Linked DNA regions of Homo sapiens: region 2 is linked to region 1. The links come from fine-mapping of genetic effects on plasma protein levels. A gene starts in region 1. The other region holds a variant in brackets. All regions are shown on one strand. Distances are between the middles of the regions.

Region 1 (17,045 bases):
TCCCTCCACCAGGCCCTTTTCTCAGCTTGTTGACCAGAATGCTGGGGTCCCTGAGCTGGAATCTGCAGGAGTCCTCTCAGGGGAAACTGGCTGCCCCCAAATAAAATGCTTTTACATCCTGACAGTTGGGAGGCCCCCAGTGGCACATCTAGGTCACCTTGTCGATAACCCTATTTTCAAACCTATCATTTGACAAATTTTAGCTATCCACACAGAACTTCCAATCAGTATTTTAGTGCTCCACTCTTTTTTTTTTTTCCTTGAGACAGAGACTCACTCTGCACCCCACAGGCTGTAGTGCAGTGGCCTGATCTCGGCTTACTACAACCTCCACCTCCCAGGTTCAAGCGATTCTTATGCCTCAGCCTCCCAAGTAGCTGGGATTACAGGCGTACACCACCATGCCTGCCTAATTTTTGTATTTTTAGTAGAGACGGGGTTTCACCATGTTGGCCAGGCTGGTCTCAAACTCCTGGCCTCAGGTGATCTGCCTGCCTCGGCCTCCCAAAGTGCTGGGATTACAGATGTGAGCCACTGCGCCCGGCCTTAAATATGAATGGACAGCCAAGTATTATCAGATATCGTAGGAAAGTCTCTAACACAAAAAGCAGAGACCAAAACAGACAAACGGTAAAAAAGAACTTGGATGAAATAGACCCACTATAGAGAACAGAAGAAACATCTAAAAATAATCCCAAAGGAGGGAAAGGAGTTGATACTGCATCAATGAAACAAGAACAATACTCTATAAAAAGGCACATTTAGAAAATTAGAACGAATCCTTAGAAATGAAATAATATGTCAGTGGAAAGAAACCATTAACTAAAAGATGGGGATTTAAAGATGAGAAAATTTCCCAGGAGGCAGAACAAAAGAGATGGTAAATAGAACAAAACAGATAACAAAGCTAGAGAATCAATCTAGAACATACAACAGCTGAATTATAGGAGAAAGAGAAACTAAGGAAATGAGATATCTGGAAATTATTTAAAAAATAGCACAAGAACATTCCTAGAATTGAAGGACTAGATTAAAAGAGGCTCTAGATTAAAAGAAATCTGCACAATGAGTAAAAAACCACGTGTATCAAGAGACATCATAATGAAAGTCCAGAATACTGGTAATAAGGAAAATATTCCAAAAGTTCTAGAGAGAGAAAACAAAGGATTAGGAATGATAAGGGCATCAAACTTCTTAACAAAGTCTAGACCTAGAAGACAATATCATCAAAATTCTGGAAGAAAAAGGTTTCCAATCTAGAATGCTATACCCAGATCAACTATCCCTCCACTGTGAGGGTAGAACTGAGACATTTAGACATATATAAGATCTTCTAAAATTCACTCTAAAATACCCTTTCTAAGGAAGCCACTGGTGAAGGTGCTCCTCCAAAATGGGAGAGTAAACCAAAAAAGAGAAAGGTATGGGATTCAGGTTCAGCACAGGTAAAGGAAATCCCCAGAAAGAGGGAGAAGAGAACTCCCAGAATGTGTGACGGCTTAGAGAGCAAAGAACTCAGGCTGTGAAAATAAATCGAGAGATCTTCAGGAGGGATGTCACCAATTAAAAGGAGGACCGATAGACTGAAATTCATGCTTGAGTATTTCAGAAGAAGATTTACACTCCTGGTTAAGAGTCTGGTGAGATTAGTTACAGAGACAACTAAGCAAACTAAAAAGCAAAACAAAAACAAACACCCCCCACCAAAAAACAAAACAAAACAAAACAAAAAAACTCCATGTAACTATTGACTCCTAGGAAACCCAAAAGTTGGAGAAGAAAAGAAATATAATTATTTTATGCTATGTGCTCAGATGTGAATATTTTACAGTCATAATAATGTAAATAATGAATAAAGATTTAACTAAAAATGATAATATAGGTAAACTGGCAGAATGAGGAGGGGAAATGTGGGTGGTGAAGACTGAAGACAGATAAAGCTAGTCCTTATCTTCTATACTGTAGTTGAGCATTAATAGAAAATACGTAAAAATGAAAGACAAATAAGCATGTTATTTATACATATGAAGTTAAAGACCAGATGAAACAGCTACATGAATTGGCAAATGACTGCTCCTGAGGAGCAGCACTCAGGGGCGGGGAGGAACAGCTTGGAGACTGCTGTTATTCATAAACCTTTTTAAAAACCTTTTTTTTTTTTTGGAGACAGGGTCTCACTCTGTCACCCAGGCTGGAGTACGGTGTCATGATCAGAGCTCACTGCAGCCTCTACCTTCCAGGCTCAAGTGATCCTCTCACTTCAGCGTCCCTTGTAGCTGGGACCACAGGTGCGTGCCACCACACTTGGCTAATTTTTAAATTTTTTTGTAGAGATGGGGTCTTGCTATGTTGCCCAGGCTGGTCTCAAATTCCTGGGCTCAAGTGCTTCTTTCGCCTCAGCCTCCCAAAGTGCTGGGACTACAGACATGAGCTACTGCGCCCAGCCTTAGAAAACTTTAATTAAAAAACAAAAAGTCTTACAACTATTATGTATCCATAATAATTAAAAATTTTAAAATTAAAAAATAAAGTTCAAAAATTTATGTCATTTTGATATAAATAAAATTTAAATCAAAAGATAATGTGCTCTTTTTATTTTTATTTATTATTTACTTATTTTTGAGATGGGGTCTTGCTATGTTGCTTAGGCTGGCCTTGAACCCTGGGCTCCAGCCCTCTGATCCTCCAGCCTCAGTCTCCTGACTATACTGCTGGGACTGCAAGCTTGCATCACTCCATCAAGTACTGTTTTTAAAATGTCCTTATTCTGAATAAGGCTTTGGCGTTAGAAGTTTTGTAATAGCTCTTCCAAGGTAAGTGTGAACGGTGACTTAATCTTTTGTTATTATTTGTGTCCAGCTTCCTCACCTGATAGAGCAGGCACTCAACAAATACATGATGACATATTTTTAACAACCAATATGTGCGTCCCTGCCCCTGGCTCCATAGATTTGCAAGATTTGTGTGTCCATTCATAAGCCTTCCAAACGCAGGGCCTGCTTGCTGCCCTCTTTGCTCTGTGGGGCCCAGATGGCAGCCCCGGAGGCGCTGGTGGGAGGCTGTGTCCTGGGGTCCACCACTGCTCCCCGGTAAGCCAAGCCCGACTGCCCCTACATGGAAAATTCATCCCTCCTCCAGATGGGGGATTCAGGGCACCGCCACTTCCCACAACCCCGGGAATCTCCCTGGCCACAGTCCTGGCGGGACCCCCCCCATCCCCAGCTCACTGTGACAGAGTCCCCTGCACAGTCCTGGGACGGCTCCAGGTCGAAGTCCTGGAAGACGAGCCTCACAGCAAAGCCCTCTGGAGCCTTGATGTCCGTGCTGCTCTCTTGGCCTTTGCCATACGGCTCTGGGTACCCGGGGGATGTCAGCTGCTGGGGTAGCTCTTGGGCCAAGAGGACGGAGCCCCGGGTTGGGCAAGCCTGGAGGACTCCCCAGAGAAGCAGCCACCACCTGTGAGTTGGGGGGAGGGCAAGGTGGGGCCGCGCAGCTATGGCCGGAAGCCTGTGGGTGTGGGAGGAGCGGGGGAGCCGCGCTAGGACTCAGAGGCCTCGCGAGGCAGGGCTAGAAGCTGTGGCCTCACCCTTGAGGCCCGGGCACTTCCCGTCTCCTCCCTTGCTCCCCTTCCTCACCCCAATCCCTACAGCCTCCCGCGCAGCCTGAGCTCTAGGATTGTGGGTTTTCCATCCTCCGAAGACATCACCTTTGCTCATCTCCCAGGAGAGTCTCGTCCAAAGGAGGGGGGTGCTTTCTGCTTCAGCAGATCCCACCCCACCCTGGGATCCGAGGGAGCAATGGTGGGGCGAGTGAGGGTCTGCCGTAAATATCCCCCGACCACCCTCTGGGAAGGTGCTAGAGGCCACAGGCAAATTTCAGTCTCCCCATGGAATATCTGCTGTGCTGCTGCTGCTGCTGCTGCTGGTGTGTGTATGTGGGGGAGGTGTGTGTGTGTGTGTGTGTGTGGGGGGGGGGGGGATGTGTGTGTGGGGGGGGTAGGGTGGGGGGAGGGAGGGTTTGCGGCCACCCACCCTTTCTCTTCCCCTCCCGTCCTCTTCCCTCCTCCTCTGCCGGGGCCACACTCACATTGCGCCTGGACAGCCTTTGGAGTGAGGGCTTCTCCAGAGATATTTCCCCCACACTCTGGGTCCAGGCATCTGGAACTGGACATCTGGGACCTGCGAGAGAACTGGCCCAGGATAGGGAACAAAAGGTGAAGGCCGGTGGGGGAGGAGGAAGTTCCTGGAAATGTTAAGCAACTCCACAGTTCCCCTTCTCCAATTCTCCGGGCTGAGCGCCACCTGCCGTCTGACTCAGGAACAGCGGGCCCGCCGCAGCTTAGGGGAGAAACGTCCAAAAACCTCGCTGGCCCTCAGAGGTCAGGGTGGCAGGGCACTGACTCGACCCTTTTGTACTATTTAACATTAATTTTTGCCATGTGTGTAGGATGGCTCCTTGTGAGTTATGGCTGCTGCCTTCAATCAGCCATGTCTCTTCCTCCCCGACCTTTCCGTTCACGACATACCCGGGGAGCCTCCCTCTTGTAGAATTGAAGTTTGTGATCCTTGAACTTGAGCTTTCTCTTCCTTTCCCTCCTCCCCAAGCAGGGGTGGGGGACATGCGCTTAGGTGGTCTTTTGAATCCTATTCACAACCTCTGGAGGCTGCTTGTCCAGCATGGTCAGGGCTGGGGTCGAGCCCAGGTGTCCCTCAGTCCCTAGTCCCAGTCATCACTCAAGCCGTCACTCAAGCTTCTTTAGGCAGATACTAGAGCCCCTGCCTGCTCTCACCGCTCCCCGAGGAAGGACACTCACCCACAGCTTGGTAGGAGGCCAGAAGGCTCTTATGGAGATGGGTGGTCCCATCCTCAGAGAAGGCAGGTGTGTGGAAGGCCTTACGTTGTATGCACACACAAATGCATGTGCGCGCGCACACACACCTCTCAGAGAAGAATCTATTGCTTCCCCCATTTTGCATATAGTAATATGGAGGCAAGTTACAGACCCAAACAGGGTGTGCTCTGCATCTTTGGTTTTTCTAGGCTAGAGAGATTTAGGAGAGCCACAGTCTATGGCTACAAGGAGATGATAAGAGAGTGATGGCCAGGACAGATGCAATGTCTCAGGTACAGTCTTGAGATCAAGCCTACCTGTCTGCCACACCCCAACCCCAAACACAACTGGGGATGATCTCCCATACCCATCTTCGAGGAGTGGGCCTCTCTGACTAGGACTTCTTTCCTCCCCTGAGACCACTGAAACCTGCTCTCTCATAGAACTCTTAGGGTCACCTGGAGCACCTTGGGAGCCAGAGATGCAGCCAAAGAGTGAACAATGGTACCAATCCCAAGACCCATGTGTTAAGAAGAAACCAGCCAAGACTCAGATCAGGATTGGGGAGTCCACCCCTCGTTTCCCTTCAGAGCATTATTTCCTTGTTTGCTAAGAGGGGCAGGAACTGGAAAACTCAGGCTAGCCCATCTGAGAAGACTTTCCTGGAGATGAGCTGGAGGAGGGAGGAGTAAGGCCTTGGAAGGAAACTCCAGGACAGGTAGGGTGACCGACTGTTCTGATTTGCGTGGGACCGACGGGTTTCCCAGGACATGAGGCTTTCCGTTTTAAAATGAGGGAAGTTCTGGGCAAGCCAGGACTGGTGGTCACCCTAAATGGATAGGGGTTAAAGTGCTGGAGTGAGGCTGGGTGAGAAAGAGGACAGGGAGCCAAGAGGGTGGGGAGGCAGTGATGCACCGGCAGCCCCAGGTGACTGGGCAGTCCAGGGTCTGGATGTGGTCCCTGTTTGGGGTAATCCAGCACTCTGAAGATGAGGGCCCACCTTGGTCTCACCTAGGTGGCGTGTGCGGCTGCAGCATGAGTTAGGGTCAAGGGCAAGGGGAGGAATGGCTGGTGATGTGAGACTGGAGAAGGAGCTGATGGCTCTGTGCATAGCTGGTCACTGCAGGCCCCTGTGGGCTAGGGCTGAGCTGTGCCCCGCTGTGTTTTCAGCACCACCTCCCCTACACTGGGACCTCGTCTCTAACTGGCAGAGTGGTCAATGAAAAAAAGGGCATGCCTTGGCACATCATGGTCAAACTGCTAAAAGCCAAAGACAAGAGAAAATCTTTTCTTTTTTTTAATCCCATCCTAAAGACTAGACAGAACAATATTTTCAATGTCACTCTTTTCTCATCAAAACCAATATAGACCAGAAGACAGTGGAATATCTCTAAAATGCTGAAGGAAAAAAAAAGTCAACTCAGAATTGTTTTTCTAGTGAAAGTATTCTTCCAGAATGAAGATGAAATAAAGCTATTTTCAGATAAAAGAAAACAGAGATTCTTGTCGCCAGCAGACCTCCACTATGAGAAGCGCTAAAGAAAGTTCTTTAGGACGGGCACGATAGCTCACGCCTATAATCCCAGCATTTTGGGAGGCCAAGGTGGGAGGATTGCTTGAGCTCGGAAGATGGAGGCTGCAGTGAGCCATGACGGTGCCACTGCACTCCAGCTTGGGTGACAGAGTGAGACGCTGTCTCAAATTGGAAGAGCAGAGCTGCAGACAGGAATAAGAAGAACGGTAAATTTGAAGGTAAATATAAAATACGATTTTCTTTTTAATGTCTTTAAAATATGTAGAACTGTTCCAGGCAAAAATTATAACATTGTATTGTGAGGTTTATAACATATGTAGCTGTAACATATATGAAGACTGTAGTATAAAGCAGGGGTCCCCAACCCCTGAGCCGTGGACCAGTATTGGAGGTGAGTGGTGGTGAGCAAGCAAAGCTTCATCTGTATTTGTAGCTGCTTCCCATCACTCACATTACCATCTGAACTTCGTCTTCTGTCAGCAGCAGCAGCAGCAGCAGCATTAGATTCTCATAGGGGCACGAACCCTATTGTGAACTATGCATGGAGGGATCTAGGCTGTGTGCTCCTTATGAGAATCTAATGCCTGGTGACCTGTCACTGTCTCCTATCACCCCTAGATGGGACCGTCTAGTTGCAAGAAAACAAGCTCAGGGCTCCCACTGATTCTACATTACGGTGAGTTGTATAATTATTAATATTTCATTATATATTACAATAACAATAATAATAGAAAGAAAACATGCAATGAATGTAATGTGTTTGAACTATCCTGAAACCATCTCCCTCTGGCCCCATCCCTGGTTTGTGGAAAAACCGTTTTCCATGAAGCCAGTCCCTTGTGCCAAAAAGGGTGGGGACTGCTGGTATAGAGGACAAGGGGGTGGACTCATGGTTACAAGTTTCCTTCATTTCACATGAAGTGGTACAATAGGAACTGAGAAAACTGGAGTTTAGGATGCAGACTAATTCCCAGAGCAGCGGGTCTCCACCCTGTGGTGTGGGAAGACCCACAGGCCCTAAGATCCTTTCACGGGGTCTGTGAGGTAACAAAATGACTTTCATAAAAATACTCAGATGTTCTTTGCTTTTTTCCCTCTCATTCTGTCATGGTATATGGTGGATTTACAGAGGCTACGTGATGTGCAATGATTCATCCGTGGCAGTGAGCGGGATGCGTGCTTGTGTATCTTTGTGATTTAAAATGTTCTCAATTTTGATTTCTAGTACAGTGACTATTAATAGATATACCCTACATAAGCCAAAGCTCTCTGGAGTTCTCAATAATTTTTTAAGGGTATAAAGTTTGAGAACAGTTGCCCTAGGGTGACTACTAGTAGAAAAAAGCAAAGAAGTATAGCTGAAAGGCCGATGTAGAAATGAAAATGGATGTCTGAATTTGGGGGGACTTTTTTCTAATAGGGTAACCTATTAGAAATCATCCTGGTCTGTCTAGAAATGAGGTTTTCCTAGGACATGAGGTTTTCAACACTAAAACCAGTTAAGTTCCCCGACACGCCAGGACAGTTGGTCACCTTATTGCTAACACTTCAATCATTTACTTCAGTTCCCTTTCCCTTACCCAAGTGTCCCTAAAGAGCATAGGCCACCTCTGCTCTATGTTAAGGCCCCCAAGTGCAGGTAAGGGAGCTGGGATTCCTGGCATGCTAAGTAAAGGTAGCAAGCTACCAAATTGTAAGGATACTATGTTTACAAATATAGAAAGCACCCGTGAGAAAAATCTAAAATAACTGCTTCCTATTAGAGTATGGGGTTGTGGATGATTTAAACCATGTTTCTCTGTTTAGTAAAACTTCTTTAATATTATTTAATAACTTTGATAGTTACAAAATAAATGTATCTGAAATTATAATTGTGACCAGATGGTCCTTTCTGAGCCAGACAGGATTAGAGAATGAGGGGATGGATCCTTTAATCGGCATCTTTAATCCACATGATTAATGAAGAAGTTTTTGTCCTTGCATATAAACTTAGGCCAGGCATGGGTCTTTCCAATCTTAGCTGGGCAAACAAGGTTGGGGTGCTCCAGTGACTTTATTTTTGGTTTTATTTTTGAAAATCGTGTTGGTGCTGCCCCCTTCTGTCCTGAAAGGGGAAGGGCAGGACAACAGAAAGTGCCTTGGGGCTTCCTGGCCAGGGAGTTTCTCTGCAGCCTTCATGAGCCCCCAGCATTTAGAGAGGAGCTTGCCCTCTCCTGGAATCCAAACAGCCACAGGAGAGCCCAGGCAGAGGAGTCTGGGGCAGCACGAGCCATTTCTGTCCACAGCTTCCCTGTCTTATCTCTAGATACCTTGCCCTGGGCTGGGACACGTGGGGGCTTTTGTGCCCAGTGCCAGGTGAGGAGGGAGATACAGGAGCGAGGTGAAGAGCAGCAGGGGTGATGAGGCGGCTGAGTCAGCCAGACTGGGACCCTTTGCTTCTGTCTGGCATGGCCAGTGGAGATGTGGACAGCCCAGGGCAGAGGGGTGACCCTAATGGGTCACACTCCTCCACCCCCAAGTTATCTCAGGCTTTCATGTCAGGGCCTTGACTTCCATGCCTTATGGACACCTAGGCAGTCGCTAGCTCAACCCCAATGGAGTGTCAGCCACTAGGTTTAGCCCTTAAGCCCATCCTCCCTACTCTGCCAGTATCTAAAATCTCAATCAATCGTGCCCCTTCCCAGGTTAAAACTTTTCAATGACTGTGCCTCCTGATCCATGAGATGAAGCCCCAGCCACTTGTTTGTCTCGTCAGGTTCTTCCTTCATAATCAGGCTCTGCATGACTTTCTGGCTTCGCTCTCCACCGCTGCCGCCTCGCATGTGTGTTCCAGGCGCGGTCATGATGCTATGGCTTCACAAACATGCCTTGCGTTTGCATGTGTGACTCCCCGACCAATGCCGTGTTCTTCAGTCATCAGCATAACATGCTGCTTAAAGGAGTGGGCTTGTGTGCCACACTCACCAGGTTTAAACCCAGGCTCTACCATTTAAAAGTTTGGTGACCAAGGCCAGCTTACATAATTTCTCTGTGCCTCTTAACATCCTCATCTGAAGAACAAGGATGAGGACAACGGTACCCACACCAGAGGGTTGGTGTGAGGGTTAAATGAGTTAATAACCAGAATTGCTTAGGGCAGTGTCTGTCATTTGGCAAACAATAAATATCATTACTTGCTTAGGAAGCAGAATAGAATAGCAAAATGGTTAGATCAGTGGTACTCAACAAGGAGCAGTTTTGCTCCCCAGGGGATATTTGATGATATCTAGAGATTTCTTTTTTCCATTACTGGCATTTAGTGGATACAGGCCAGTGATGCTGGTAAGCATCCTAGTGCACAAGGCAGCAGGTCCCACAACAAAATGTTACCTGGTCCTGAACGTCAATAGGGGCGAGGTGGAGAAACTGAGGGTTGGGTGGTCAGGCTCCAATCTGTTTGGGTTCAAATCCCATCTCTGTCTTTTATTTCATGTATAACCTTTGGCAAATTACTTAAAATTCTCTGTTCCTTAGTTTTCTTATCTGTAGAATGGGGACAATAACCTGTGCTTGGGTTCCTGAGAAGAGTCAGCGTTCGGCATGTAGTACTCATGCCCTGGATGCCGGCCATTTTTACTCACCTCTCTCCCCGTGTCCTCTCCTCTGGGAAGCCCTCTTTGACTCAGAGAAAATGACTTTCCCTGTGCTCATGGACTCTTGATGCATGATAACCTCCTGCCCGTGTGTCTGTCTTTCCCACAGGGCTGTGGGTTCCTTGAGGGAGGAATTTTGTCCTGCAGGCTGTGGCAGCCCTAGGACTCAGCACATCTAGGTGTCCACCTGCGTCTGTGGGTGAGTTCTTGGGATGGGGCAGAGTGGGGAGTATGCACCAGGTTTTGGAGTTTTCAAGGTGTGCAGGGAGGAAGAGAAGCAGGTGGTAGACAGGTGCATCTGGGAGATGGGGTTGGGTAGAGTTTGAGGGTCTGAACACGGCCCTGCCCCATTTACTATTCTCTAGTGAGAAGCCTGATCATTGCCACGTGACCGCCTCCTCACTGTTGGTACCTGGTTGTAGAGAGCAGCTCTGTGAGTAGAAGGAGAAGGATCCTGCCCTGGAGAGGGCCTGGCTGGTCCTCACCTGGGGCCTATCATTTAGTAACAGGGCTTCTGGAAGTGGTAGCAGATCTGGGCCTGGTGGGCATTCTGCTTCTCCTGGGTGGCAGCAGAAGTCCCTAGGTGGCAGGCTGGGGACTGCCCAAAGGTTCTGACTCAGGAAGAGCACAGTGGAACAGAAAGCCCTTGTACCACCTTCGCTGCTGTATTCGTCCATTCTCACACTGCTGTACAGAACTACCTGAGACTGGGGAATTCATGAAGAGAAGAAGTTTAATTGACTCACAGTTCTGCGGGCTTAACAGGAAGCATGACTGGGAGGCCTCAGGAAGCTTATAATCATGGCAGAAGGCGAAGGGGAAGCAAGGACCTTCTTCACATGGCAGCAGGAGAAAGAGAAGAAGGGAGAAGTCTACACACTTTTAAACAACCAGATCTCATGAGAATTCCATCGGGAGACAGCACTAGGGGGATGGCACTAAACCATTAGAAACTGCCCCCATGATCCAATCACCTCTCACCAGGCCCCTCCTCCAACACGTGGGGATTACAATTCCACATGAGATTTGGTTGGGGACATAGAGCCAAATCCTATCAGCTGGTATCCTCCTTTTTCCAGGCTTTAGATATGGCACAACCTGATGGCTTCTGCATAAAGCCTCCTCTCATCTGCATCTCTCCACCTCACTCACCCTCTTTTCAGCAAAGAACCCTCTGGCTCTAGTTTCACTGTGGTGGTCCTGGGAGAGGTAGAGAAGACCCAGAGGCTCCTTACCCTGGGAGGTCAAACTGACCATCCAGGTTTGGCTCTTCCCTGCTGGTGTGTCTAGAACACCATCTTCCCCTTATTGCTGTGGACTTCAGGGCTCTGCTGCTCTGTCCTCCACAGAACTTGTCAATCAGCTTCCTACCAGCTAAGATCTGGTGCTGTCTGATATATCCTCCCTGCGGCTTGTCACTCATGCTGTCTAATGGCGTGAGGTGCATTGAGTTGTATTCTGATGTCTTTGTCCTTTTGAAGCCACAGAGTAAGGTCACACAACTTTGAAACGAGCAGGGTACCATCTGAAGATGCTGGACATTCCTTTTAACAATTACCTAGGGGAGAGGCAGTCCTCAGACAGGACTCAGGTGGGTGGGCCTCAAAGAGGAAGGGAAAGGGGGCAGCTGCCTGCCTCTGAACTTCACTCTCTAGACTCGTGGAAGGGTCTAGCTTAGAGCTAGGATGGGAGGGCTGTGAGCACTGAGGATGGAGTCATGCCTTTTTGTGACTGGACACATTTTTACTGCCCGAAGTCATCTACTGCCCCCACCCCCCAACCCCATTCTTCTGCCCACTTAGCGAATATTGAGGTTATGGTCAGGATGGGGTCATTTGCAATGAAATTCAAGGTTGAGACTATGTTGCAGTTATCTGTCTGCTTGTAAAAAGTCACCCCCACATTTTGTTTAAAACAGCAAGTATGTACTATTTCACACAGTTTCTGTGGGTCAGGAATCCAGAAGCGGCTGAGATGGGTAGTTTAGGATCAGGGTCTCTCACAAGGCTTTGGTCCAGGTGCAGGCTGCAGTCCTCCAGAGGCGGGACTGGGGCTGGAGGTCTGCTTCCAGACGGTCACTCACATGGATGTGGGCAGGCGGCCTCAGTTCCCTGCCACATGGCCCTCCTCATAGGACGCTTGAGTGTCCTCGCGGCATAGCAGCTGGCTTTCCCCAGAGTGACCCAAGGTGGAAAGAACAAGGCAGAGGTGACAGTGTCTTTTATAAGCCAGCCTTGGAAGTGACGTAGCATCATTTCTGCCTTATTCCATTGGTCACACAGACAACCCGATGTGGAAGGAGACATCACAAGGACAGGAATACTGGGAAGCAGGTATTGTTGGTGGCTGTCTCGGACGCTGGTTCTCATAGAAGTAGATGTATTATTTTAGTACAATAAGTGCAGACGATCAGCTAGCAGGATGTTATTTTTGCTGGGTATGGTTGTATTTCAGGTGCATTTACCCAAATCCAGAGTACCTTTGGGGGCTCTGACCCTCTCCTCCTCCACCTTGAGATCTGTAGAGGCCTCTCGTTCATCCCACCAAGAGCAGGACTGGACAGATGAAAGCATGGCTTACAGGAGGCCAACACAATAGGAGGTAGGGCTTTGGGAAGACAGCATAGGTTTCAAAAGAACCAAGAAGCTGTTGAAAAGGAGAGCAGATGGGCAGGGAAGACAAGTCCCAGATAGAATGCCCTTTGCAACCTAGGGGGAGCTGACCACAGTGTGCATCCTGACACTCGAAGACAAGGTCTCCATCAGCAGATTGCCCAACAGAACAAGTTCAGAGCCCAGAGATCCCAGTTCCAGATCTCAGATCTCCCACACCCTGTGGGCTCTGTGTGGACTTTCGTCCTGAAACAAAGTCCTTTAGTAAAGGACTCTTTAAATTCACTCCATCTGTGCTTTGCTTGCCAATAGCAGGGTGCGTCTGTTACATACTGGACTATCCCTTCCTTCAATATGTTCATGGCTGAGGCTGCATTTGTGCCTCAGATAATCAAGGTGAGTATAACTCTCTGTTCTGTTTCCCTTTTGTTTCCTCCAAGACTTTAATAAACCCTCATTCAAGAGGCCCACCTTGTCCCACCTGTGCTTCTCAGAAAAGAAGGAGTGGTGGGGAGACAGGCTGGGGTGGGGGCTTTGCCACCTGGCTGCCCCTTCACCTGTGGGTTCTTGCTCCAATGAGGACCCAGCAGGATAAGCTTTAGTTTCATTAAGGGTGACAATAGTTTCCTTACAGCTGGGTCAAGGATATGAGCGAGCCTCTTCCGAAAACAGCCGGGAAGGGAGAGGAATCCAAGAGGAGGAGCAGGTGGGAAAGACAAGACAGAAGGTGGATCGGGACCAGGCCTGGGAGGGAGCACAGGCACACAGAAGTGAAAGAATTCGCCTGAGGTTACACGACTCCTCGAGCGGTGCCTTTAGCTCTGCATTGTGCCACCTGCCTGGGTCAAGGAAGATGCCACCGCTGTTGTTCTGTGTACAGAGAGGGAAAGGAAGATGCTGGCTCTCAGCAGTTCTATAGAACAGAGGATGGAGAGGCCACACGACAATAGGCACACGCACCGTACATTGAAGAAGTGCATGCAAGACAGAATCGTGTGGGATATGCACACTTGCGTGGAAGAAAAACTGTTCCATTCACATTGAGGTAGACCCTCCATCTATGACTCATCTGTAGGGCAGGGGTGTGGGCACATACTGAGGCATGAATGGAGGGGAAGCTGGAGCTCTGCTGGTGTAGAAAGGCGATGGGATATGCTCGCTTCAGCAGCACATATACTCAAATTGGAAGGATACAGAAGAGATTAGCATGGCCCCTGTGCAAGGATGATATGCAAATTCATGAAGTGTTTTTAAAAATCATTTTAGAAGAAGAAGAAGAAGAGGAGGAGGAGGAGGAGGAAGAAGAAAGATGGTGAGATATCCTGCAGGAGACCAGGGCCAGGAGGGTGGAGGCCTCTCAAGAAGAGGGAAGCATGAGGAAGCTCCAGGGCAGGGTGAGGGCGCTGGTTCCTGTATTCAGCTGTCATAGGGAGGAGGGGAGTAGCTGGGAGGGTTAAGGGAGAGTGGCAGTACCTGCAGCTGGTGGCTGGGGAGTCCAGGTCTGGGATGTGGCCTCTGCTGCTGGTGCCCGGCACCTTGAATGAGATAGCAGTACGTACTGTGGGGGATGGGGGGGGGTCCCAAGGGCTGGGGGGTAGGGGTGGATGGAGCTGATGACTGTGCAGCCATCACTGCAGTGGCACTGGGCTGGGCAGCTGTCCCTGCGTCATCCCTTTTCTCCTGCATTGAAGCCTTCTCTCCATGGGTGGGAAGGCTAGAGTGGCTATTGCAGCAGGGGCTCTGGAGGGCAATGCTGTCCCGGGGAGCCCAGGCACCCTTCTCTGGGGATGGGGGGTGGGGTGCAATGAGAGACTCTGGATATGGATCCCTTAGGGAGGCAACTCCCCTTCATCCTTGTCACCCCCAGATGGTTTACCTGCCTGGACAGCAAGATGATGGCTACACTAGCCCCCATTCTCTGGTATGTGTCACTTACACTTCGGTGTAAATATGTCACTGTGTAACCTCAAGGGTAGTGGCACTTGATGCCTTGTCCTTAACTGAAGAACACAAGGCTTTGCTTCTAGTTAAGAGAATTTCAATCATCAGGTGAAGAGGCAGGGAATAGTGCAAGTAATGATAGCCAGCATCTGTCAGGGCGCACTCCACTCCAGGTCCTCTGCTGAGTGTGCATGCAATCTTCACAAAATTCCCAGCAGGAAGGAAATACTCTTGGTGTTGCCTTGTGGGCTGGCCAATGTGGCTCATCTGCTGAAGGCTGGCGATTTGTATATACTCCTGCAGCTAGTAATAGGTGGCATTTCATGCCTGGCCACTATGCAGCACTGCCTCCCAATTTTGGGTGGCATTTTAGGTTCCTCTAGAGCCTCTGAGGCAAGTGATTTGTCCATGAACCCAATGGCCTGGCTATGCTGGTGACCTTCTGCTTGGGCACTGCCCACGGGGAACAGAACAGAGGCTCTGAGAGCTGCCTCCTCTCCCTGGTGGCCAGAGTAAAGTGAGGGCAGAGGGAAGGGAGCTTGGGAAAGGGTGGGGTAGGGGGAGGCAGGAGGCTCACCCCCAGCTAGATGGTGGGTCAAGAAGCCCTTGAGAAAGATGGAGATCCTTCTTGTTTTTGCTGGAAAGGTGAGTGTGGAAGGTCAGCTACGTTTTATACCCCCGGTACCTAAGTGGCCTCTAGTAGGGGTGCATATTCAGCATGGAGCACAGGTTCCCACAGAGCAATGCCGTCCTGTTGGCTGAGGTCTGGGGAGAGGGGGCAGGCCTGGAGAGTGCCGATTCTGGCCCCTGGGCAGGCAGGGTTCTCTGGGTACTCCTTGCACCCTGGCCTCAGAGGCCTTGGCTACCACTGTTGTTTCTTTCTTTCTGTCCTCCATGCAAACTCAGGTCAGTTATATCACAGTCCTTCACAGGGCGCCTGGATTTGCCCACCAGATCTCCTCACCTCTTGCCCTTCACCTCCTGCTGTACCTACAAGGTCTCCCCGATTCTCATCTGCCCATAATCATGGACACAGCCCCAGGATGTGCAGGGTGAGTCCCCAGGGACCCTGAAAGCATGGGTACTCTTATGACTGAGGGCGTTACACCAGGGAGAGGGAGCCGGGGAGACTTCCCAGAGAGCTGGTTGGGGGTTATGAAAGTGGCCTCACGGCTGATGCGGTGGCTAACACCTGTAATCCCAGCACTTTGGGAGGCTGAGGCGGGCAGATTGCTTGAGGTCAGGAGTTCGAGATCAGCCTGGCCAACATGGTGAAACCCAGTCTTTACTAAAAATACAAAAAAATTACGTGGGCCTGGTGGCACGTGCCTGTAGTGCCGGCTACTCAGGAGGCTGAGGCACAAGAATCACTTGAACCTGGGAGGCGGAGGCTGCAGTGAGCCGAGATTGCACCACTGCACTCCAGCCTGGGCGGCAGAGCAAGATTCTGTCTCAAAAAAAAAAAAAAAGAAAAAGAAAAAAGAAAAAGTGGTCCCAGGCCAGGTGGGAGCAGCAGGCTCTAGGGGAGGAAGTGCATCCTGTGGAAGAGCAGGGAGCCGCTGGAGGGGTGGGGAGGGAAGGGGCAGCTCCCACCCTCATCTCCATCGTCCGCATGCTGGGGATACCAGGCCTCTTACTTGGGGTACTTAAGGCTAGACCAGATGGGGTTCCTGCATCTTAGGGAGTGACATTAGGGTGGGGGAAAGGTACCAAAATGGCCATGCCTCTGCTGTCTCTTGGGATCTTGAGATCTGTGGTGGCCTCTAGGAGTTCTCTGCTGCCAATAAGTGGTCCAACCATGTTACAGGATTGGACCCGGGATGGCCTTTGTGCTTTAGAGCTGAGGCACTTCCTGCTTCTACCTGAGCTCCTTTTCAACATATAGGCCTGGGCACGTAGGCGTCAGGGTCATGTGGGAGGTGGAGGCCGAGGGGAGAGGTGGGCAGTGGGGAGGGGTACACGGCTAGACCTTGTTGCTCTGCCTCCTCTTGGGACCCCCCAGTGGGATGGAGCCCAAGTCCTTGGGCAGCACATGGTCCTCTGCTTCACAGGACACACACCTGTACCCATCCTCCCCATCCACTTTTGCTCAGTTTATTTTGGGGACAGGGCTCTGAATTGACCTTTGGTCTTTGCAGACTCTCAGGGACCATCTGGAGTTCCAGCTGGAATCTGGGCCTGGTGGAGTGGGAGTGGGGCAGGGGCCTGCATTGGGCTGACTTAGAGAGCACAGTTATTCCATCCATATGGAAATAAACATTTTGGATTCCTGATCACATCCCTGGAGTTTAAGACTCTGGCCAACCAAGTCAACTCCACAACTTTGTGTGTCCCTGGGAGGGTCTGGTGTGGGACCCACCTGTCTGTGGCCCTCGTCCCCTCCCCTGCCCTTTCTCCACTCACATCTTGGTCCCTCTGGTGATTATCTCTTCCCTCTGAGGACAGATGGAACCTGATTTGAATGAGGGGTAATGGTCTTGTGAGGACCAGGACAT
Region 2 (8,000 bases), 15 kb before region 1:
TGAGGATATAGTCGGTTACAGTGTTTGTTCCTTTAAGGATTTGATTCTTGGGAAAAAGATTTCTCTCTTAAAGTAGTGGTAGGTTTTCCTCTGTGGATATGTCTCTATCGCTAGCTCATCTATCTCCATCATCTCTATCTCTTACCTCCCTCTCTCTCTCATTGTCGATATCTCTATCTCTAGACAGAGACAGCGATGGAGATGTAGAGATATAGATCTAGACATACACATATAAATATAGGTATATATATATTTTTTTGCCTTGGCAGGGAGAAACTCATATCATTTTTTGCAATCATAAAAATAAGCAAAATAAAATAAAAACATTTCATGCTCATTAAACAAATTTTAGCCAATAGAGAATAGTGGAAAACCAAACAGCCAAAATCTTATCAATAAAACCACCTCTGTTTAGTATTTTGAGAGAATTATTATTATATTTTTGGCGATGGGGTTTCACTATGTTGCTTAGGCTGGACTTCAACTCCTGGGCTCAAGCGATCCTCTTGCATCAGCCTCCTGAGTGGCTGGGGGTATAAGTGTGCATCATTGCACCTGCCTTTTGGGAATATTTTTAATAATCTTTTGTACTGTATGTGGGTGTAAAAAACAGAAGTAATCACATGTATGTACAACTTTGAATCCTGCCATTTTTTAGAGATAAATTTAACCTTTGACCATATAGCAACTTGACTCTTGATGCTAACAAATTACCTCTCTTCTCTCTTTTATGGTGTTTATTTTCTATTTCCATTGAACAGTTGTATTTTATTTGTGTCTTTCACTGTAAATCACCTCCAATCTTTTTTTTTTGGGGGGGATGAAGTCTTGGTCTGTCCGCAGGCTGGAGTGCAGTGGCGTGATCTTAGCTCACTGCAACCTCCGCCTCCCAGGTTCAAGTGATTCTCCTGCCTCAGCCTCCCGAGTAGCTGGGACTACAGGCACGTGTCACCACGCCCGGCTAATTTTTGTATTTTTAGTAGAGATGGGGTTTCACCATGTTGGCCAGGATGGGCTGGATCTCCTGACCTCGTGATCCACCCACCTCGGACTCCTAAGGTGTTGGGATTACAGGCGTGAGCCACTGCGCCCGGCCCATCACCTCCAGGTTTTACTAAAAATTAAAGAGTTGGTCCTCTCAGGTGGAGCAGTTCCCCTGATGATAGGGGCACAGGTGGGGTGTCTGCAAGAACTTCAGTCCAGTGCTGGGCTCACCTGGCTTCTGCAGGAGATGGGGCCATTAGGAAAGTGTGAGCTAGAGGATACCATTTTCGCAGAAGCAGGAATTCCCAGGGAGGGAAAATGGTAAGGATGTGGGGGCTGGGAGGGAAAGCGGGTGACACAGCAGGTTAGAGGAGGGTTGAGAAGTATTGCAGCACACTGGGAAGAGCACAGTCTCTGCAGTCACACACCAGCTGTGGGACTTGGGCAAGTCCCTTTATCCCCTGAGCCTCAGTTTCCTCATTTGTCACACATAGATAATAACACATCCTTTGCAAATATGGTATGAGGATTAAGTGAAATAACAGGTGAAGCACCTGGCATATAGAGGACATAAAATAAAAAAGGAGCTGTTTCTATAATTGCATCTTGGAGCTGCAGAATAGCTTGAATATTTGAAGGTCAACTAAAGGGTCTTAGGAATGTTTCAGAAATGCAATGCAATGAAAACCCCTTCCTCCATACTCTAATAGCGGGTGAGTAGCTGACTCTTCCACAGGTGAGTATAAAAGCTGTGTCAACAGATGAAGTAGGGGAAGGCGGTTCTAAGGACATTCAAGGCGAAAGTTGTTGAGATGTACAGGCTTCCCGGGGCCTAGTGCATGAGCACAGGGAGGTAGAGGGTGAGGAGGAGCGGTCTGTGGGACTCTGCTTCCTGTCTGGGATGGGGCGGGCTTGCCGGGTGGGGGTTTCTCTTGCAGTGGCTTGGTGCAACAGTGATGTGAATAGGATTTCCCTGCCTCCCCCAACCCCCCACCCCCAACCCCTACCCCAGTGTTCAGTCCTCACTCCAGGCCCTCTGTTGCCTGGGGCCTCCACTGTGCTGGTCAGTCCCTGTTCAAGCCCCCAGGGTCAATTCTTGCCATTCATCACTCCCTTGATCCAGTCCACATAGCTGAGCACCTTGGTGTAGAAGTCATACCCTTCGCCACACCCTATGCCCCAGGACACAATGCCCGTGGCCACCCAGTGATGGGCATGATTGTCCCATACCACATAGACGCTGCCACTGTCCCCCTGGCAGACACTGTGCCTTTGCGTCTCATCCCCAACACAGAACATATTGTCAGAAAACACCTCGGGTCTCTGTCTCTTTTGGAGCCAGGCGTTGCAGGCCTCCCTGGGAGCTACAGGCAGCCTCGAGTACTTCAGCTCAGTAGTTAGCCAGCCCATCTCCATGCCAAACCCACTGACGTAGCCCAACAAGCCGCTGCGGTAGAGGGTCTCATTATCGGGCAGACAGACCGGGAGGACGTTGGGGCCCAGGGGGATGCTGTGCTGCAGCTCCAGGAGGGCGATGTCCCCGCTAAAGTTATGGGACTCATTCTGACGGTAGTCGGGGTGCACAACGACACGGTGGACAGGGTGGTTCCCCAGTTTCAGCATCTCATCTATGGCTGTGTGGCCCAAGAACACATTCACACTCTGGTTCTTCCTGAGAGAAACACTGTCCTTGGGGTAGATGGTGTGGGCAGCAGTGAGGATCCATCTGTCCCCCAGCAGGGCCCCGCCCCCACGGCCGTGGATACTGGTGAAGGCTTGCCAGGGGAAGTTGCCCAGCTTGGCTCTGGAAGAACCGAGGGTCGTCTGATTCTGGGCAATGGGGGTGACTGGCCGTCCGCAGACTGGGAGAGAGGCGGGGTAGGGGTGACAGTCAGCAGCTGCATCTAGACACACTGATTAAAGACCTGCTTCTCTGAAGTGCTGTGGTAGGGGACGCGTGAAGAGACTCTGGGATCAGGACGTTTTTTTTTTTTTTTTGATATCGAGTTTCGCTCTTGTTGCCCAGACTGGAGCGTACTTGCGCGATCTCGGCTCACTGCAACCTCCGCCTCCTGCGCTCAAGCAATTCTGCCTCAGCCTCCCGAGTAGCTGGGATTACAGGCACCGACCACTACGCCCGGCTAATTTTTGTGTATTTTTTAGTAGAGACGGGGTTTCATCATGTGGGCCAGGCTG[G/A]TCTGAAACTCCTGACCTCAGTGTTCCACCCGCCTCTGCCTCCCAAAGTGCTGGGATTACAGGCGTGAGGCACCGCGCCTGGCCGGGATCAGGACTCTTATACTGATGCAGACCCACGGTGTAGACCATGTGGGCAGACAAGGACAGGTAATCAATGCCAAGTGTACGGGGCACCCATCCTGCATGGGACTCAGGACAGTGGACTGAGGGTAGGGAGCACAGATGAGCACATGTTTGGGGCTGGTTCTGCAGGGCTCTCCTTCCTGCCTCCTCAGAGGCATTAAAGCCATTCGTTTGGACCATCCTGGGCCCCCATACTACAGGCAGAGTCTGTTTCAGTGCCTCCTGCCTCAGTTTTGTGTCACTTCCTCATTTGTAACATCTCCCACTACCACCTGCCCTCCAAACCATCCCCAAAGCACTGCGAGTGTTCAGGCTACCCTTAGAGTTTTCCGTGGATCAGATTGGGTTAAGAAGGCAATGCTTTCGGCCGGGCGCGGTGGCTCACGCCTGTAATCCCAGCACTCTGGGAGGCCGAGATGGGCGGATCACGAGGTCAGGAGATCGAGACCATCCTGGCTAACCCGGTGAAACCCCGTCTCTACTAAAAAATACAAAAAAAAATTAGCCGGCCGTGGTGGCGGGCGCCTGTAGTCCCAGCTATTCGGGAGGCTGAGGCAGGAGAATGGCTTGAACCCGGGAGGCGGAGCTTGCAGTGAACCGAGATCGCGCCACTGCACTCCAGCCTGGGCGACAGAGCGAGACTCTGTCTCAAAACAAACAAACAAACAAAACAAAAGAAGGCAATGCTTTCATTCAAAAGCGTGGATCTCAAAAATGGTGGGCTTGAACCCTCATGTATTGCCGGTGAGATGTAACTTGGTGCTGCTGCTGTTGAAGACAGTTTGGTGGTTCCTCAAAAAGTTAAACAGAATTATTATACAATCCAGCAAGTCTACTGCTAGGTATATACCCAGGAGATTTAGAAACGTACGTTGATATAAAAACTTGTACACAAATGCTCATAGCAGCATCATTCATAATAGGCAAGAAATAGAGACAACCCAAATGTCCATCAGTTGAATGAATAAACAAAATGGCGTATCCATAGAAAGGAGTATTATTTAGCCATAAAAATGAAATACTGATGGATGCTATAACAGGAATGAACCTTGAAAACATTACGCTAACTGAAAGAAGCCAGACAGAAATGGCCACACATTATATGATTCCACTGATATAAAATCCATAAAGGCAAATCCATAGAGATAGAAGATTAGTGGTTGTCAGGGGAGAGTTGGAGGTACTGGGCTGTTTTGGGGAAGGTAATGGAAATGTTCTGGAATTAGTGGTAATGGTTTCACAACATTGTGAACACACTAAACATTACTGGATTGTACTGTTTAAAGTGGTTAAGGCTGGGCGCAGTGGCCCAAGCCTGTAATCCCAGCACTTTGGGAGGCTGAGGCGGGACGATCACCTGAGGTCAGGAGTTCAAGACCAGCCTGACCAACGTGGTGAAACCCTGTCTCTACTAAAAATACAAAAAAAAAAAAAAAATAAAATAAAATAAAAAAATGAGCTGGGCATAGTGGCAGGTGCCTGTAATCCCAGCTACTCAGGAGGCTGAGGCAGGAGAATCGCTTGAACCCAGGAGATGGAGGTTGCAGTGAACCAAGATTGTGCCGTTGCACTTCAGTCTGGGCGACAAGAGAGAAACTCCATCCCAAAAAAAAAAAAAAAAAAAAAAAAAAAAAGTGAGCCACTGCGCCCAGCCATGAATTTTATCTCAATAATTTTTTTTAAAATGGTTGACTGTCTGGCACTGTGTGGCATCTAGGTAGGGAGATATTTTAGGAATAGAGAGCCTGTCGGTATATCCTTAAAATGTATGGCACAAAAAGAGGGTTTTCTGTTACTTCAGCTTGTTGGTCTCTCTTCCTCCTTTTCTAGTCCATCTCATGAACGTCCTTCATGCTTTTCCTCAGATATATCTTGACCCCTGAAGAATGAGGAACAAGCTCCCTGCCTGTTCTTTTCTGGGCCTTCTTGATTGCCCTGTTCTTCCTCACCTTCTGCTTCTTATCTTCCTTTCTATTCTAAGGCTTTCCTTTAACCCCTGTGTCCTGTAGGTCCCAGTTGCAGCTGAGGCTTGTTGGGGGAATGGTGCTAGCAGGTGGCTACTCACCAGGCATACACTGAAGAACCTCCTCCCCATCCTGTCTGTCTTTCCAGGTCCCTGGGGTTGCACAGGTGAGTGCCCCTGTGGCGTAAATGAGGAGAGGCAAAGAAATAGGCTCGGAGTTGAAGCTGTTGGTTAACGAAGCAGGTGCTCAGAGGGTGTCAGGCATTTGGGTGGGAATGAGGTGGATGGAAGCCACCCCTCGGCAGGTGGGGACTCACCTGCTGCCGCGGCCTGATAATAGGGCTCCTGGCAGTGGTTCTGGACCTTGGCAGGGTTGTCTCCAGGTGCGTTGATGGCCTCAGAGCCCCTGCTGGCCTCGCTGATGGGCTGACTATAGTTCACAGCTATAGGAAAACAGCACCTAGCACAGACTTGCCAACTGGCAACCCAGGGGCTGATTCTGGCCCATGGCTATACTTGGTTTGACTTGCACAGTGTTTTATTTTTTATTTTTAGTTTTTTTAAAACATTTGAGTTCGTTTTCACTGATCAGATTGACAACACTCAAAGAGTTTGAAGATAACTGTGACAAGCAGGGTAGGGGGGAACAGGCACTTCCATATATGTTTGATAGGTATGTAAATTAGCAAAACCGTTTTGGAGAAAATTTTAGCAATATCAAAATTTAAAATGCAAATATTTTTTAACCTACTCCATTTCTAAAAATTTAGTCTAAAGATATTCTCACACATGTGCTCAAAGATGTAAATGCAAGGATATGCACAGTAGCACCATGTGTGGCAGCAAAGTATCTATCAGGAGGGCTGATGAAATACATTATGACACATCAATCAAGGAGATTTTATGTGGTCATTAAAAATAATGAGTTCGCCAGGTGCGGTGGCTCACGGCTGTAATCCTAGCACTTTGGGAGCCTGAGGCAGGCAGATCACCTGAGGTCAGGAGTTTGAGACCAGCCTGGCCAACAAGGTGAAACCATTATTAAAAATGCAAAAATTAGCTGGGTGTGGTGGCATACCTATAATCCCAGCTACTCAGGAGGCTGAGGCAGGAGAATCGCTTGAACCCAGGAGGCAGAGGTTGCAATGAGAAGAGACTGCGCCACTGCACTCCAGCCTGGGCAATAGAGCGAGACTCTGTCTCAAAAAACAATAAATAAAATAAAAAATAAAAAATAAATGAGTTAGTGCTGTCCATATGGAATGGGATGATCTTTAAGATATATTATTCAGTAGAAAAATACCACGTTTAGAACACTTGCAATATAGACACACACAATTTATCCTCTTCCCGGGAAGAATATCCAGGAAATGGAGAACACAGTTGTTTCTGGGGAGGGCAGCCAGGAGTTAAGAGCCAGAGATCAGAGGAAGACTTACTTTTTAGCATACTTAAAAAAATGATATTTTATCATGTGCACCCTTCCTTCCTTTCCTTCCTTCCTTCCCTCCTTCCCTCCTTCCTTCCCTCCCTCCCTCCCTCCTTCTTCCCTCCCTCCCTCCCTCCTTCCTTCCTTCCCTTCTTACTTTCCCTCTCTCCCTCCCTCCCTTCTTTCTTTCCCTCTTTCTCCTTTCTCGCTTTCTTCCCTCCCTTCCCTTCCCTCTCCCTTTTCCTCCTTCCTTCCTTCCTCTCTTCCTCTCTTTCTCTCTTCTAGTTTCTCCGTGTCTCCCAGGCTGGAGTGCGGTGGCATGATTGTGGCTGACTGCAGCCTCAAACTCCCTGGCTCAAGCAATCCTCCCCCTCAGTCCCTGAGTAGCTGGTACTACAGGTGTGCACCACCATGCCTGGCTAATTTTTAATTTTTTTTGTGGAAACGGGGTCTCACTATGTTGCCCAGGCTGGTCTCCAACTACTGGCCTCAAGCAATCTTCCAGCCTTGGCCTTCCAAAGTGCTGGGATTACAGGCATGAACCACTGCCTCCAGCCAGTATTTATCTTTCAAAAACAAATCTGAGTCATCATTTGAAAATTTATAATTTTACTTAAAAATCTGGATTTTTGGCATCTCTTTAAAAATGAGATGATCTGCAAACACTGGGCCTGTAAATCTGCATGGAAACAACCGCTGGGGGCTCAGCTACGGCTGTCTCTTAATAGGGTTGCTTGCCAGCAGGGGCAGGGCTGGGATCCAGCCCAGGTGTCCCTGAGTCCCCAGCCTCAGCTGTCACTCAAGCTTCCACTTAAGGCTTGAAGATACCAGGGTCATGGCTGGGAACAGAGGCTCCCTCCCTGCACCCCCAGGAGGGACACTCACCCACGGTTTGGTAGAGGGCCAGGAAGCCCTTGTGGAGGTGGGCAGTCTTGTTCTCCGAGGAAGGCTGTGTGCGGAAGGTCAGCCGCAAACTCCTCCCTGAGGATACAAACTCCCTCTGACCAGGGGGCCTGCCCAGAGGGGAGCCTTGCTGACCACAGAACTGGCTTGGATCCGAACCGACGAATGAGATCTGAAAGCGGGAGGAGGAGTGAGGCTGCAGATAGGTGTGGGGTGAATCCGCGCTGCTGGCATCACAGGGGCACATCCTCGGTGTGACTCCTGCCCCATCTAGACGGGCCGTGCCCCTCTGGGGCTCAGAAGGCACCTCACAGAGGCTTCCTCAACTAGCTTCTGGTTCCATTATTGACGCCTGAGTTTCTTCCAGACATAACCACATACTACAATGTTTCTTTAGCCTAC

What was found. A credible set is the group of variants that fine-mapping cannot tell apart. PIP is the chance, under the fine-mapping model, that this variant and not a neighbour inherited with it causes the effect. The UK Biobank Pharma Proteomics Project read protein levels with antibody pairs (Olink). The fine-mapping took linkage between variants from a reference panel, not from the people measured, so its PIPs are less certain.
Region 2: its variant is the best candidate, but not a certain one, in a credible set for the plasma level of the C1RL protein (UK Biobank, PIP 0.60).

What each region holds. Positions count from the first base shown.
Region 1 is chr12:7,105,024-7,122,068 of GRCh38, forward strand. It overlaps C1RL (complement C1r subcomponent like), which reads right to left and starts at 4,191. Exons shown (of 6, transcript NM_016546.4): 1 at 4,087-4,191; 2 at 3,228-3,456. The coding sequence starts at 4,157. It overlaps C1RL-AS1 (C1RL antisense RNA 1), which reads left to right and starts at 3,285. Exons shown (of 12, transcript NR_026947.1): 1 at 3,285-3,458; 2 at 3,650-3,924; 3 at 5,041-5,124; 4 at 5,275-5,549; 5 at 6,002-6,583; 6 at 6,984-7,041; 7 at 10,107-10,196; 8 at 10,363-13,654; 9 at 13,876-14,003; 10 at 14,477-14,530; 11 at 15,483-15,602; 12 at 16,689-16,828. It also overlaps a transcript of RBP5 not described here and the pseudogene RNU6-485P. RefSeq lists enhancers at 3,211-4,410, 3,243-3,412, 4,053-4,132, 8,244-8,745.
Region 2 is chr12:7,094,318-7,102,317 of GRCh38, forward strand. C1RL (complement C1r subcomponent like) reads right to left here. Exons shown (of 6, transcript NM_016546.4): 3 at 7,581-7,770; 4 at 5,584-5,709; 5 at 5,369-5,443; 6 at 237-2,846. The coding sequence ends at 2,074. Among named protein-coding and RNA genes, the nearest start is that of C1R, 5.9 kb to the left of the region's middle. The variant G/A (reference allele first, on the strand shown) is at 3,181.